Linked DNA regions of Homo sapiens: region 1 is linked to region 2. The links come from fine-mapping of genetic effects on gene expression. Tissue or cell type: whole blood. Region 2 holds a variant in brackets; the other region holds the start of a gene. All regions are shown on one strand. Distances are from middle to middle.

Region 1 (8,192 bases), 190 kb after region 2:
CATGCAGAACTGTGAGTCAAACCTCTTTCCTTTATAAATTACCCAGCCTCAGGTAGTATCTTTATAGTAGTCTGCAAATAGACTAATATACCTCTTTTGCTCCCTTTTCTAGTTTTAATTGAGCATTTTATATGATTCTATTTTCTCTCCTCTCTTAGCATATCAATTATACTTAAAAATATGTTTTTAGAAATTGTCCTAGAGTTTGCAGTACACATTTACAACTAAGTCCACTTTTCAATAACACTATACCATTTCACAGGTAGTGCAGGTACTGTATAAAAGATTATTCCCAGTGCCTCTCTCCTGTTCCTTAAAGCATTGCTGTCATTTATTTCATTTATTCATAAACTAATATCACCCAATATATTACTGATATTATTATTTTGAAGTTATCTATGCGATCAATTAAGAATAAGAAACAAATTATAGGTTGGTGGATTTTTCTTTCAACACTCTAAATATTTCACTCTACTCTCTTTTTCCTTGCATGGTGTCTGAGAAGTCTGATTAATTCTCATCCTTGTTCCTTATAAGTAAGGTGATAGTTTTTCCTCTGACTCCTTTCAATATTTTCTCTTTATTTTCCACAATTTGTATACAATATGCCTACATGTAGTTTTTTTAAAATTTATCTTGCTTGGTGTTATCTGATCTTCCTGGATCTGTGGTTTGATGTCTGTTATTAATTTTAGAAAGTTGTCCACCATTATTAGATACCTAGATAACTATTATTTATGTATCTTCTGCTGCTTTCTTTCTTTTCCTTCTGGTATTGCTATTACCTGTATTTTATGCCTTTTGTAATTTTCATACAGTTCTTGGAAATTGTGTTTCTTTTTCCTATTCTGTTTTCTGTTTCCATTTAAGTTTGGGAAGTTTCAACTGACATACCTTCAAGCTCACTGATTCTTTTGCAGCTATCAAAAGTGATTCTCTTTTCTATTGTAGTATTTTTTGTTCTCTAACATTTCCTTTTGATTCTTTGAGTTTTCATCTTTCTGTTTATTCGTTCTTGCACTTTTCCCAGTTGATCTCTTAGCATATTAGTCATAGCATATTTTAAATTTCCAGTCTCATAATTCCCAAATCCCTGCCATATCTGAATCTGGTTCTGAGGCTTGCTTTGACATTTCAGAGCTGTGTTTTTTCTTGCCTTTTAGCATGCCTTATAATTGTTCATTGAAAGTGAGGCATGATGTATCAGATAATAGAAAACAAGATAAGTAGACCTTTAGTTTTTATGTGTATTGGGCCAGAAGTTAGACTGTGCTTAATGGTTGTTGTAGCTGTAAGTATCAGAGGCTTCTATTTTCTCTAATATCTTTCTTTTTGTCTCCCCTATTTGTTGTCTTTGGGTTTTCCTAGAGACTCATTTTTAAGCAGAGTCTGTGTCTTGCAACTCTCTCTAGTTGTGATCCACAGTTATTATACCAAAACACTATTTATGTGGTCGTAAGATATTGGAGAGTTGATACATTCTATAATGTTATGATAAAATCTCTATTTTTAAATTCTTATTTCTTTTTAAACAATTTTAGATTCAGGAGGCACATGTGCAGGTTTCCTACATGGATAGATTCTGTAATGGTGAGGTTTGGGCTTCTAGTAAACCCATCACCCAAATAGTAAACATTACAGCCAATAGATAATTTTCAATCTGCTCTCCTCTCCCACGTTTCCCTGTTTTGGAGTCCCTAGCATCTATTATTTTACCTTTATGTCCATGTGTACCCATTGTTTAGCTCCCACTTATAAGTGAGAACATGCAGTACTTGATTTTCTGTCTGAGTTATTTCACTTAGGATAATGGCCTCTAGCTCCATTCATGTTGCTGCAAAGGACATGATTTCACTCCTTTTTATGGCTGCGTAATATTCCATAGTTTATATATACCACATCTTCTTTATCCAATCAACTACTGATGGACACTTAGGATGATTCCTAATTGTGAATAGTACCCCAATAAATATATGAGTGCCAGTGTCATTGATTATAACAATTTCTTTTCCTTCAAGTAGATACCCAATAGTGGGATTGCTGGGCCAAATGGTACTTCTATTTTCAGTTATTTGAGAAATCCCCATACTGTTTTCCGTAGGGGTTTTACTAGTTTACATTGTCATTAACAGTATATACGCATTCCCTTTTCTCTGTATCTTTGCCAACATCTAAAACTCTGTTTTCTAGTTGTCCAGAATCCCTGAGCTGTGAACTTCATAAGGGTTTCTTCTTTTGTTTTTCTCCTTATGTGAGAAAGAAAGTGTAGAAGGTGTTCAAACTGTCTAGTTGCCTTTTCTCTAATTCAGATAAAGCTCTGGGGTAAAGTTTACCTTGAGGACAGGCTTTTGTTTCTGAGTATATTTCAAATAGTTATTGTTTTCCTCCCACATGCCAGAAAAAAGAGGAAACTTTTGTCCTGTCTTCTGAAAGTAAAACTCATTAATGTGTGGATGCTCCCATATGAATGACTCCCACTGTCTCTGAGTTTTCAACTCTCAAGTTAGTCCACACTCAGCCTTCAGCAATAGGCCAAATACTGTATAAATGCCCCCCTATCCTTTACTGGCTCCAGTGGCTTTTGCTGTCCTGATAAGCTGTAATTCTCCGTATTCACCTATTTCTTCAGTTTGCAAAGAGGTGGCATGTCCTATGACATCAATTCTCTGCAGATCTAAAAAGAGTAGTTGATTTTTGATTTGCTCATTTTTTTCTTGTTGTGATGATGGAAGTGGAGACTTTCACACCTTTCAAATGTCAGAGCAGAAACCAGAAGTCCTAGTAATAATGTTATATATATATATATATATATATATATATATATATATATATATATATATATATCTCTTTTGACCACATAAAAGGGGGAGGTGCACAGGTCTTATTATTATCATTTTACATATAAGAAAACTAAGGTTTAAAGAGATTAAATGAGTTTCCATGAGAAATATTGCTAACAGACGAAGCTAAAGTCAGAACCTGGATCTTCTAGTGTCTGCCAGGACTCTCCCAATACAGACCATTCTGTTTAGGCATTCATGTATACGAAACAATTTGAAAGAAAAATTTTAGTTTAAGAATAGAGTCATGCATGTTTGGATTTGCTCTGTGGCATAATGTAAAAGGCAATGGCCTAGCATATCCCTAATGAATCTTCTCAGGCCTAATTCAGCCCCCAACTCACTTTTAGACTTTAGAAATTCTCAGCAAATGCTGACACAAGCTTCAGTTTCTCCATGTGAGTGAAGCAAGAATAAACCACATGATCTTGTGACCATGAAGTGAAACAATTCTAGGTTGGATTTAGGCCCTATATTTTTGGAAGCAAGTTTGTGTATGTGTGTGTGTCTTAGGTGTGCATGTGTGGAAAGGGGAACTGATTTCTTCAAAATCTTTCTGAACTGCTAAATTAATCCTCTTCCTTAAGTGAAAAAGCTTTGCTGCTTTAATTCTTTAAATGAAATGTTATTTTGCCTTCCCATCTGCTCATCTGACATGATAGTCTATGGATGTGATTAATGTTTAAGGCAGAACTTCCTTCTAGGAAATGTCATATTTTAACAGTCCTTGTGTTTTCTCCTTCCTGTGAATGCTACACCCATTACCAACCACTGGATGGTCTCGGGTTAAATAGCACTTCCTCAGAGAAGGCTTCTTTGAACTCAGACTAGCACAGAACCTACACTTCCCCTTTCCAACTTAAAGTTTGCATCCTTTGGTGTATGCGAACCCACATGAAGAGATGTTTTTTTTGTTTTGTTTTTTTTTTGAGAGGACTCCCTCACTTTGGGAGGGCGAGGCGGGCGGATCACCTGAGGTCAGGAGATCGAGACCATCCTGGCTAACACGGTGAAACCCCGTCTCTACTAAAAATACAAAAAAATTAGCCAGGTGTGGTGGTGGGTGCCTGTAGTCCCAGCTACTCAGGAGGCTGAGGCAGGAGAATCGCTTGAACCCAGGAGGCGGAGGTTGCAGGGAGCCGAGATTGCACCACTGCACTCCAGCTTGGACGAGAGCGAGACTCCGTCTTAAAAAAAAAAAATACAGATAAATGGCCTGTACAGATAAATGGCTTAGGTGCATCTACAAAGAATTAGTGATTACAAGTGAAATCTTGTAATGTCACAAGAAATGTTAATGACGTCAGTGGTGCAGATGAATTTCTTAATACCAAGTGGAAAAATTCACTTGAGATAATCTTTTACAATGGTGTGAAATTCCTCAGACTTTTGTTTTATCCATAAACTGCACAAATAATACCTCCCTCTGTGACACTTAGAGAGGGTGACATGCTGAGAGTTTCCTGAATAATCACCTCTTGAAATACACAAAACTCTTCTAGTTTCCTGGTTGACCGACCCAGGGCTTGACGACTCCTTTTGAGCCACCTGACAATTCAGTCCAGCACAGCAACTGAAGGAAGGCGTTCCCCAACCTGCTGTCCTATGAAGGCCTCTAGGTCACCGGTGCTAAAGCCCTCCTTTCTCCACCCTCCTTAAGTGGAGGTAAACGTCCCAGCAGGAAGTCAAGGCTGGATTGGCGCTCTTCGCGAGCACCCTGGGAACGGGAGTCTGGGTCACGGGTGCTAGAGCCCTCCCCTCTCCTCCCGGCCGGTGTATGGGAAATTGTCCCCGCAGAAAGTAAAGGCTGGCCAGGCCGCCCCCAGCACGTAGAGGGAATGAGTCAGGCTCCGGCTCCACACTGGCACGTAGTGGGCGGATCGCGCCGGCGCTGAGTAGGAAGGAGCTTCAGCCGCCAGCCCGGAACGCAGTGAGTACAGCCACTCAAAGGAAAGCCAAGTCGCTTTGCAGGGGAGCGTCTCATGATTTTTCAGAAACGTGCTCATGGTTAAAAAGAAAAATCAAGGCTCGGAATAAATACATTCAAGCACTGTTAATTTTAGCCCAAAGACAGGCGGTACTTGCCTGGAGATTTGGGAAAATCAACATGAAACTAAAAATGAAATTTTAGTTGGAGTGGAGCAAGCAGTATTGATCAGAACATACCAAATACGAATTTTTTCAAAGTCTGCGTAGAAGTTTAAATTACTAGGAAAAATGTAAAGGAGAAGTATTTACTAATAAATGAAACAAAAGTAATAAAATAAAAATGAATTAATATAGTTTGACAAAATATCAGCGAACGCTGAAAAGAAAACATTAAAATAATGTTTGAGACTTTTTAGGTTTTGTGCAGGAAGAATTGGGAAAAATGTGCTGGATGGAGTGATACTGCTTTTCTTTTCCACAAAAATTTCATTATTTTAGAGAGCGGTAGAGCCTTTTTAAAGACAGTAAGTTATTGCCAATTCACAATGAAATAAGATCACATGCTCTGAAATGTACAAGAGCTGCATGCAATAAACTTCATTTATCTATAGGTAATAACTGATTGATGTTTATTCAGTAGTCGAAATGCACCTCATGCACTCTAATTAGCACGTCAAATTAGTCTCTCCGTTTCAGAGGTGTAGGGCCTTTGTGGAGCCTTCTCAATAAAATAATTTGCCACTCTTGAAGGTTAGACATTCTCTTCTATCAATGTACACATAAAGGTTTTGTTTTGCTTTGCTTGTTGTGAATTAAAATGGGGAGAAAATGATGTGTTAGCTATCACCCAGTCATGTGTCTTTTTAGTCATAGGTTAGCTTTTCAAGACACTTCCTGCATCTCTGACCTGTTGCACCTCTGTTATCTTGGCACCTCTGTTATCTTAGCAGCAAGCACCTGCCTCAGCTGACCCTTGAGCCATAACCCATGTAAGTCACTGCAGGGCTGAACCTCTCTTTGAGCCTAACAGTAGAATAATAATTATTTTTATTGAATAGTGTTAATGTGTCAATGTTGAAATGTGCCTCAGTGTGTCTTCCTCAACCACATCCCTATAGAGGATGTTTTCTTAATAGCAATGTGTTTTTGTTTTAAGAAAGTCCACACAATTTCAAATACACATTTTCTTTACTAAAGTTTATTGACCAGTTTTGAAGTGATCCTTGTTTTCAGTTAAACTATCTTTAATAATGGTAAATAACATATTTTGTAGGTTGTTGTATATTTAATATTCTCTGCAAGAACACATAAGGAACAATACATGGACCTTTAAATATTTGTCATTGTGAAATAAAATAACAAGGAAAGGTGATTTCAGGTGTACTTTATTCAATACATATATACAAGAAGTTATTACTATAACATTAAATTTGCAGGAAAAAAGAAACCACTGGATTATTCTGCTTCTATTCCAGAGGGCTTATTCCAAAGGGCCAGTGTGCAAAATATGAATCCAAGATGGCATTGTGGAAAGACGCTGTACCTCCTGTGATAAAATTACTTTGGTGGTGCTTTTTTCTCATGTATCTCGGGAAACTAAAAATCTGAATTGTATTCAGTGGCCTTTTCCAAATGGTAACTTTATGAAAAAATGTCTAATTCTTGGTTATTTGTGGTTTTAGTCCTTTCTTCATAGAGAAGCTAAAGCTGTTAAATAAGCTTAGCAGCGTTATCCGCTAAAACTTTCTGCAGTGATGGAACCTACACAGGAGAATTTTTTTTGTAATGTACTAAAAATTTGTCTTCAGGGCTTGTTCTTTTTAAATTGTAGGCTAGTGATCAAAAATATTTGGTGATAGAATAAATTAACATGAAGTACAAACATTATATATAGTTGTGTAATATCCTATCTGCAAAAAGGAGTCTTAGCGTGCTTTTGAAAAATTCAATAAATATAATATGTTAATCACAATTTGGTCACAGATTCACGTCTCAATTGTTTCATTTTTTCTTTTATTTCAGAAGCTCCTGAAAAGTACATCAAGTCTAAAGTGAACCAGCTAACTCATTAAGACTGGAATCATGAGCAACAATGGAGCAGACCTAACCTTTGGTTACATCTCCTGTTTTGTAGCTATCCTTTTGTTTGGCTCAAATTTTGTGCCACTTAAAAAATTTGATACTGGTGATGGTAATTATTTTTCCTTGATTGTTAACGTTATATTATTTTTAAAAATGAAGTTCCTTTTTTGGTCTTTTAAAAGTATAGCTACAAAAATAAATCATGTTGATCTTGATACCTAGTGAATAGAGCTTAAAATTAGTCATTTGACAGTGCTCATACCAGTTTGTCTGAAAGTCAGAATAGGAGAACCATTAAGGTTGTTTCATGGTAAAGTTAGGGAGGGTACAGTCAGGAAATCTCTTGGGCCATTATATGAATGGAAGAAATTTATAGTCAGTTCTACTATAACACCTGTTTTGAAAACATGAATCTTCAACATGATTGATATATTAGAGAACAATGTAAGCATAACAGATTTTTGGCTTGCTTATGTGCAATTTTGTCCCTGAGAAACCTCTAGATAGGCACAGAAGACTGCACCTAGATGAATAAAGATGTGTGATAATACACATAATGCACGCAGACACACGTACAATCTTCAAATATCGACCAGCTCCCTTAGTTCATCACATGTGGTTATGATGTATTCCACCCAACCACATCTCCTGTCCCAACTCCTCACCCAATACCTTCACAGTAACTCGTAAGCTGCAACCCTTTGGATGCTCACTTCCAGGAGCAAACTTCTGGTGTTTTTCAATTAAAATGCCCTATTTATTACAGCATCATGTAATTAACCAGTTAACCAGTTAAAACTGTACTACTATTTTAATTAGGTTGAGTGTTGTTCTCCTAGCCCCATTTTCCCATTATGCTCTGTAGTTTTTACTGCATGATTTTGCATAGTGCAGTGATTTCAAGGAATGCACATGTTACATTATAGCAGAACTGACTAATGTGAATTTTGGGGAAGGAGAAGCAAGAGTTATTTGTATTTGCCTGACTTCCATATTAAAGCCAGGAGAAGGAATTGAGATTTATGGTGAACACATGTTGGGAATTACTTCCTTGGTAGTATTTATCACCTGACAGCAGTTGTGTTATTTCCCCAATTCTTTGTCTTCGTGCACTTAGAAAATAGGATTACCTCCTATTTTCCTCCAGGGCCTTTCTTCTCTTTTCCTCTGGAGTTAGGACAAGAATGGGAACTACCCGAAGAACAAAAAAATGGGTAGAGGATCTAGCTTTTTTAGTCTTCCACAATTAGCTTTGTGATCCTGGGCAAATATTACCAGCTCTGCTGTTTTCAGTTTCTCATTTGTAAAGTGAACAACTTATAAAATGAAGTTTCTTTTCAT
Region 2 (8,192 bases):
TGTTTTAATTGAAGAGCTATATAATTTTCCTATTTAAATCTATTTTATTTCTCTTGCCTATTCACAAGCTCAAACAGAAGTCTTCTCCTTTTGCTATGTGTTTTTTTCTCCTTTACAAATTGGACTTCTTTATTACCAGCACAAAGCTTTAAAAATCCACATAGACCAGAGTGACCACTTGACTCATTTTTCAGAGATAACAACACTAAGCTCTTTTTATTTTTCTTTAGTTGCACTGGTGATTATCATAGATCACATTGCTTGATAGATACATAAGGCATGAAAATTGTTGGCCACAATGTACTAGGGAATGGTAAGGAAGATACTCTGAGTCATAACTAAACCATGGGGTTTAATATTTTGTTTCATTAATTTAACAAATATATAGTGCATGCTATTCTACTAAGTATATACAGTTCCAGGAACTGAGAATACAGTAATAGTTATTGTTTATACAGTAATGAGGAAAAACTTAAAACATATAATTAATAAATGCTATATGGGACCAGGTGCAATGGCTCATGCCTGTAATCACAGCACTTTGGGAGGCCAAAGCAGGCACATCACTCGAGGTCAGGAGTTCGAGACGAGCCTGGCCAACACGGTGAAACTCCATCACTACTAAAAAAAAAACGAAAATTAGCCAGGTGTGGTGGCATATGCCTGTAATCCCAAGTTACTTGGGAGGCTGAGGCAGAAGAATTGCTTGAACCCAGGATGAGGAGGTTGCAGTGAGCCAAGATTATGCCACTGCACTCCAGCCTGGGTGACAGAGCAAGACTGTCTCAAAAATAAAAAAATAAAAAAATAAAACTCTGCATGGTCTGTCTCATAATACCACTAGAAATAGTCCTAAATTGTGAATTAACTATTTTAATAGATTTGCTTTTAAAGCTGAAACATATGAAACTTATAAAAGACAATAAAATCACATATGTACTGTTTTTATTTATTTACATATCTAGTTCTCCTATCACTAGACTAAGTTTTAATCCCCAGTAACTACCTTTGCAAAGCATAAAATAATCAAATACATATTCATTTAATCATTGGATTTAATTATAATCCCAAAATATTAACTTAGAAAACATAAAACTGTCAAACCTCAAGTATCCTCAATGTTAAAGCTTTTATTTTACTTTGAATTTCTTAAAACAGGTTCAACTTTCCCAATGCCACTTGGTTAGCAATTGGCAGAAATAAATAGAAATTTGGCTCTGCTCAGAACACATCCTTTTCATTGAAACTTTTTTTTCTATCAAGGCTTTTAGTTGAATTTTTTTCAAAGTGCCACAAATATAAAAGAGAATTAGCACTATATTTTAAATATAAAGCAATACAAATAAATAAAATTGGGTTGACTATTGATTAAACAACATTTCCAGTACCTTCTAAAACTTATTTTCTTGTGACATAACTTTTCTTCTGAAAGATTAATGCTAGCTAGAGATAGCTAGTTGTTTGCCAAACACTAGGTCGAGTTGGGTATTTCTGTGTACCGAAGGGTAGAGTTGCTCTGGAAACTGGCTTCTCTCACAGCCTTGCATGAAATTAGGGTCAGATGATTGGGTTCTGGCCAAGAGAATGTGAATGAAAGTGACATGAACTAGGACTTTTCAAACTTTCGTTTTCATAAAGACCACCTGAGAAACTAGTTAAACCATCTATTCCTGAACTCTACCAACAGTTTCTAATTCAGTAGGGCTGGAAAAAGGCTGGTTTGTGGGTAATGCTGATGCTATCTGCCCATGACTCACACACTGATATACATGACTACTACTTTGCCCATATCCAGTAAAAAAAAGAGATATTTTTAATAATATCATTATTTCTATGTTATGAACGAACAAAAAAGTAACCATCTATTTACAAGTAGATAACAACTGGTTATATTCTCTACCATCAATTTTTGTTGTGGACAATTACAAATTCCATTTATTTGTTTGTTTGTATGTTTTGGACAATTACAAATTCCATTTATTTGTTTGTCTGTTTGTTTGTGTTTGAGACAGAGTCTCACTCTTGTCACCCAGGCTGGAGTGTAGTGGCACCATCTCAGCTCACTGCAACCTCCACCTCCCAGTTACAAGTTATTCTCCTGCCTCAGCTTCCCAAGTAGTTGGGATTACAGGCACATGACACCATGCCCGGCCAATTTTTGTATTTTTATTACAGACGGGGTTTCACCATGTTGACCAGGCTGGTCTCGAATTCCTGACTTCAAGTGATCTGCCTGCCTCAGCCTCCCAAAGTGCTGGGATTACAGGCATGAGCCACTGCACCCGGCCACAAATTCGGTTTTTAATACACATATTGCAAAGGTAGAAAATCCTATTCCAACCAGGGGATAGTTATATGAAAAAAAAGTTGGCAGAAGAGTAAGAACTATGAATTTAAGACATCATTTGTTGTCTCTGTATTATTCCCAAGAAATCATAGCCAAAAGAAAGAAAAAATGATGCAAAGTGAAAAAAACACTAGCACATATTTTATCCTTAGAAGATCTCTACTGACCACCATGATGGTGGTAATTACTTTATGATGTAAACTACAACAATTAAGCTATTCCTAGCACACTTATTATGAGCTTCAGAAAATCACAAGGATGCAAACACAACTAAACTACATTAATGTGGACTCTCTTTTCAGCATAAAAACAAGATGTTCTACGGGTATGCCAGGAAAAGGTTTTTGGCTTAGGCAACTCCTTCCAGAAACAGTTACTCTATCCTTCAGTCCACTTTTTAGTTTACTTATAACCTTCTCACAGCTCAATAGCTTCCCTCTTCACCTTCATCTTTTCACCTCTGGCACAATGTGGAAACAGCTCATCCAATGCCTAACTCAGTCTCCATGGTTTCAACCCATTATTTCAACATCCTTATAAAAACATTCTTAGTACTCCTGGAGTAAAATTTTATTTCACAATATGTCTGCTATTTATGATCCCCCTATATCTGCTTAAGCCTGTAATCTTTCAAAGCAAGCACCTTCAGATAGCTTCCCGTTATTAACTTGAGATCAAGGATTAGTCTCCACTGTATAGTAATTATTCAAGGTGGACAATGAAGGTTTTTGTTTTTCTTGCCCTACCACAGAGCTGAGAACTCTACCCAAAAATTATGTCATCATTTTTTCCTGCATTTGTAGTAGGCATTAGCATCATTTGGTGAATGGGATGCTTGATGTAAAAAGTAGTTACAACTTGCCTAATAACACAGTCAACATTTTTAGGAAAGTTAACATTAGAATGGAAGACTCACAAACCCAATATATGTATATATTGTATATGTACATATATTGCGTATATGTATATATTGTATATGTACATATATTGTGTATATGTACTAACATATACACAATATATGTATATATTGTATATGTACATATATTGTGTATATGTACTAACATATACACAATATATGTATATATTGTATATGTACATATATTGTGTATATGTACTAACATATGTATATGTATACATATATATTCTAAGCTA[T/C]TTAACCTTTAGTAATAATTATATTGTAAAAATTAAAATGGCCCCAGAACACCCAGATCTGTGTTTGCAATAAATGAAAAATTGACAAATTATTTATATTTCATTATCTCTCTCGATTATATATTCCATGTGGCAGGCACCACACATATCATTCATCAATCACAATAATACAGTGCAGCATGGTACGACGAATCTAAAAGGTGCTTGGTAAATATTAGTTAAATCAATGTTGAAAATATTAAGTAAAAATCATAAAGTATGCCTGAAGAAACCTCATTTATTCCTGGCTTTTTTTTTCTTTCACTTTTATTTTACTTCGTGTCGTGGTTAAGAGCACAGCTTCCAGAATCAGACTGCCTGGGTTATAAGTCATGGCTCCTCTATTGAGCAAGTTACTTAACTGCTTCGTTACTCAGTTTCCCCAGCTGTAAAAAAAGTATAACAATGCCACATAACTCAAATAAATTTATGAGAATTATATGAGAAAGTTCACATTGACCTCTTGGGTTAGTATTGTAATCAGTTAGTAATTGTTCACTATTATGAGACTTTTCACTTGATATTGGTAAACAGCTCTGTTTTTTAAATTTATGATAAATATACCAATCATACAGAGATATAAAGGATGGAAATTAGATCAGAGAATATCACAAAAATATGTTCATCATAAAATAAATAAAAATAATGGGTCTTTATATTTGAAATCATGTCTAGAACATTATCTAATACCCATCATTTCATTCTAATTAGGGCCTTATAGGTAAATAGAGTTTCTTGATATTCTATTGTTTTATTTCAAGACAGGAAAATAAAGATATGCCGCATTTTAAAGGTGCACAGTTGCTAATGAAGATACCTGAAATTCAGCTGTCAGCCCTCTGAACCATATATTAGATCAATTCGACAGTTTATTCAGTTAGTACCACTGGCAGAATTTCTCCATAATTCTTACCATATGTACTTTTTTCTGCATTTCACTTCCCTTTTTGCTCTTTTGCTCTCTCTCTTCAACTTTATCTACTTTTTGTTGCAATTGTTTTGGTGATTTTATTGTTATCATTGGTGGTGGTGCTGGTGATAGTGGTGGTTTTTGGAACAATTGCTTTTCCTTCCCTAGCTATCTCTTTATTTTTCTCTTTCCATGACCTAAGAAGCAAAAGTGCCCAGTAATACACAGGAGCCTTGCTTTGTTAGCAGAATTTGTCATTTGAACTATGTGACCTCTATAATCATTTGTTCTACAGATGCCTTCTTTAAAGACTCATTTCGGAACAAGAAAAGGCTTTCAGACATTCTCCAATGACTAGCAGCATTTGCCATCCATCTTTAAATGGGTAATTCCCCTGTCAAAGACCTAGTCTCCTAGATAATTATATGCAGAGAACTATTATTTATTTTCCCTGCCAATGCACTGGAATCATACCAAATAAATCATGTGCTGTGGTATTAAATGTTGGTGAAATAAATGAACATGAGGTTTTAGAGTGACATGTCTTGGGAGTCAAAAGTACCTATGAGCTAAGGCATTTATCTCACTTGTTCAGGAGCTGACATTGGGTTCAGTAATTGGAAATTCGCATCATAATATTACAAAGGACAAATATTCACCCATTTCCATTGAGATGGCTTCCTCTTTAAAAGAATTATTTAGAGAGATTTGCACTGCTCTCTTGATATTGATAGTTTATTCAGCTGTTGAACAATAACTTAGGTTTTTCCAGACCATCATTCTGCACATGTTAAAGAACTCCCAAACCACCAGGCTGGCTTAGATAAATATCAGACTCTGGATAACTTTGGTATCAAGGAATAATGTGAAAGATAATCCTCTTTTCCTAAAAAGATGGGATGGGGAGCTACTTTTGAAAATAAGGTTTAGAAATAACTATTTTACTGTGAGATATGTTTATATTATACTAATGTATGCAATAAGTAGCATACAATTTTATTTTAATCACTATATTATAATTCTATGAATCTTACATATAGAAAAAGAATAGTAATAAAATATTCTCATCTTGAAAATGAGATAGTGTATGGTGGTTTTTCACTTTTCTATATTTCCTACTATGAGTGTTAATTATTTTTATATTTAAAAAATGAAATTAAGGTTACTAAAAATATTTTAAATGTTAGGGCATAATACATAAAGTAACACTTTCTCCCTTGTATCTCTTTATTATCATTCAAGTTTTCTTGCTATTCTGTCTTAACCTGTACTGTTCCTTCAAGTAATAAACATCAAAGGATTACTGTATTAAAATTACTCGAATTAATATGCTTTATTGTAAAGTATAATTAGTGTCAAGTAATTGTATCACTAGCTCATGATGTAGCTCAAAATGTAAAACAGACACCAGGCTACCTGGAAAGCAGGGAACTCCAGCTCTGACATTACTAGCAGGGTCATCCTAGGCAAGTTACTTAACCCCTCTTTGTTTCATTTTCCTTACACATTACAGTGGGATAGTAGTAGAAACCACTTCACAGATTGTTGCAAGATTAAATGAGTTATTATGTGTAAACATTTAGAACAGAATCTCACACATATTAAGTTCTATATGTGTCGTATTATTCTAGATTTTGGTGGACTTCATATGAGCATGATAACTATATAAATAATAATCTTATATAATCATTTCCTCTGGGTGCTTCTCCAGTGCTCCTAATAAGTTTGATGCTAATCTTGTTCACTAAGTCTCAACTCCTATCACAATACCTGACACACGGTAGACACTCTCTATATATACGTGGAATGAATAAATCTATAATAACTATTACAGTCAAGATGCTGTGTCTAAAAATGAAATCTGATACATGAATATAGTCAGTCATCTGAAAATATCAAGGATACTCTCTTTTTGCTAAAACCAACAAGGAAGTATTTCAGTTGAATTATTTTTATAGGCCCTTATACTATTGTTTATCTATTTCAGTGAGAGTCTGTTATTCTTTAACAACCTTGCATTCTTTCTTGATGCAGAGCTTATGTTGAATCTTAGGACTGTGTTTTCTGAATGGGGTCAACATGTGTTTACCATCTGGCTTTACTGTGTGTTACTTTCAAAGTCCATACATTGAAATACAGTAGAAGCCTCTTTATACCACATAAAGCACTTCATGCTAAGTTCCATTGGCCTGGTCCCCTGACTATGAGTCATAGTCAGCTGGAACATTGCTTGAGAATAACTTTACAAGGCATTAAGAGAACAAAAGATTTTAATGACTGGCTCAAAATGGTCTGGAATTGTGAATGCTTTCAAGAATCCATTTATATGTTGTTTCATTAGGAGCATCTGATGATTAGGAGTATGTGAGGGGCATGTAACATTTTTTTAACTTGTTCAGACAAATTATAACAGAATATGATAGTAAGTTTCAAGCTCAAATTTGCCTGTTAATCATATTTAATCTTTCTTTGTAAACTTTATTTTCATAGCATTACTGTATTATGGAAAAGAAATAGAGTATGATATTTTAACCCTTGGATCAATCTCAGACTGTTGAGATCCTTTCAGTTCTGATTTAGTACAATTTCAGGATGTAGGAGGACATCTCAAAATATTTAAGTGGTTCTATAAGCCTGAGGCTGGAAATGAATCACAGAACCATTTTTCATCTTGTCAGTCGCCGACATCATGCTTAAGGAATTCTTACAGCAAAACAAATGCCTATTCAGAGAACGTTAGCCATTCTATTCCTTGATATTAAGTCAAAGCAGTAGTCTCTACAAAGAAGCTTTGAAAATATGCCACTTTGTAAAATGTAATATTAATCAGTATGTTCATTCCTCACAAAGATAACACTAAAATGATAGGAACGAATTTAACAACTCACACACCCTGGGCCAAAGAGGCATTAATCCAGAACTAAAAATATGTTAACATTATAAAGATATAACCTATCTGGATTTCATCTAGCGTAAAAAGAGTTGTAAATCTAAGAGGAGTGATTTTGATATATTATTGCTGATTTCTAGATACTCTGAGGAAAAGCTATAAGATTTAGAGGTAGACAAGCCCTGTTGATCACATCCAGTCCAGTTTTTCTTCAGCTTTAGCTGCACTTTAGGATTACCTGCGGAGCCTTTATAAATCTCTATGCTCAGGTCAAACCCTAACCCAATTAAATCAAACTCACTAGGAGTGGGAACCTAGATGTCAGTATTTTTTGAAAGCCCCCTAAGTTTTCCTATACAAAGTCAATCAAGGTTAAGAAGGTCAATCACGGCTCTAGTTAGAGTCTGGTGGTGTGGCCAAGAGTGTAGGAGCTATCTTTGGACATGTTGGTGAGAGGTGGGTGACTAAAGGCAGGGCTTACTATTAACATGCATTGGCACCTTCTTAAGTGCTTTACCTGTATTATCATGTTTAATCCATTCTAATGGGTAGAAACTGTTACTATCAGCACCGTTTGTACAGATGAGGAAACGAAGAGAAACATCATACAACTAAGAATGGTAGAAAGAAGATTCAATCCCAGGCATTTATTTATTTAACAATTACTTATTGTTTATATATTATACCAAATGCTGCGACTTGTTGGAGTGCCCACATGCTTCATGTAATAAACAAGGAGATGTATTCTACCAATAAACACCTAATGATCAGTATGGTTGGGCGCATTGGCTCATGCCTGTAATCCCAGCACTGTGGGAGGCCAAGGCGGGCAGATCACCCAAGGTCAGGAGTTT

What was found. PIP is the estimated chance that this variant, and not a neighbour inherited with it, causes the effect.
Region 1: TMEM144 starts here. The variant in region 2 is fine-mapped to the expression of TMEM144 in whole blood (TOPMed, PIP 0.90).

What each region holds. Positions count from the first base shown.
Region 1 is chr4:158,205,817-158,214,008 of GRCh38, forward strand. TMEM144 (transmembrane protein 144) reads left to right here and starts at 4,670. Exons shown (of 13, transcript NM_018342.5): 1 at 4,670-4,770; 2 at 5,637-5,758; 3 at 6,792-6,960. The coding sequence starts at 6,852. RefSeq lists enhancers at 4,058-4,612, 4,513-4,602.
Region 2 is chr4:158,013,811-158,022,002 of GRCh38, forward strand. All of the region lies in intron 1 of LOC105377509 (a long non-coding RNA gene), which reads right to left. Among named protein-coding and RNA genes, the nearest start is that of GASK1B-AS1, 150 kb to the right of the region's middle. RefSeq lists a silencer at 1,907-2,063. The variant T/C (reference allele first, on the strand shown) is at 3,500.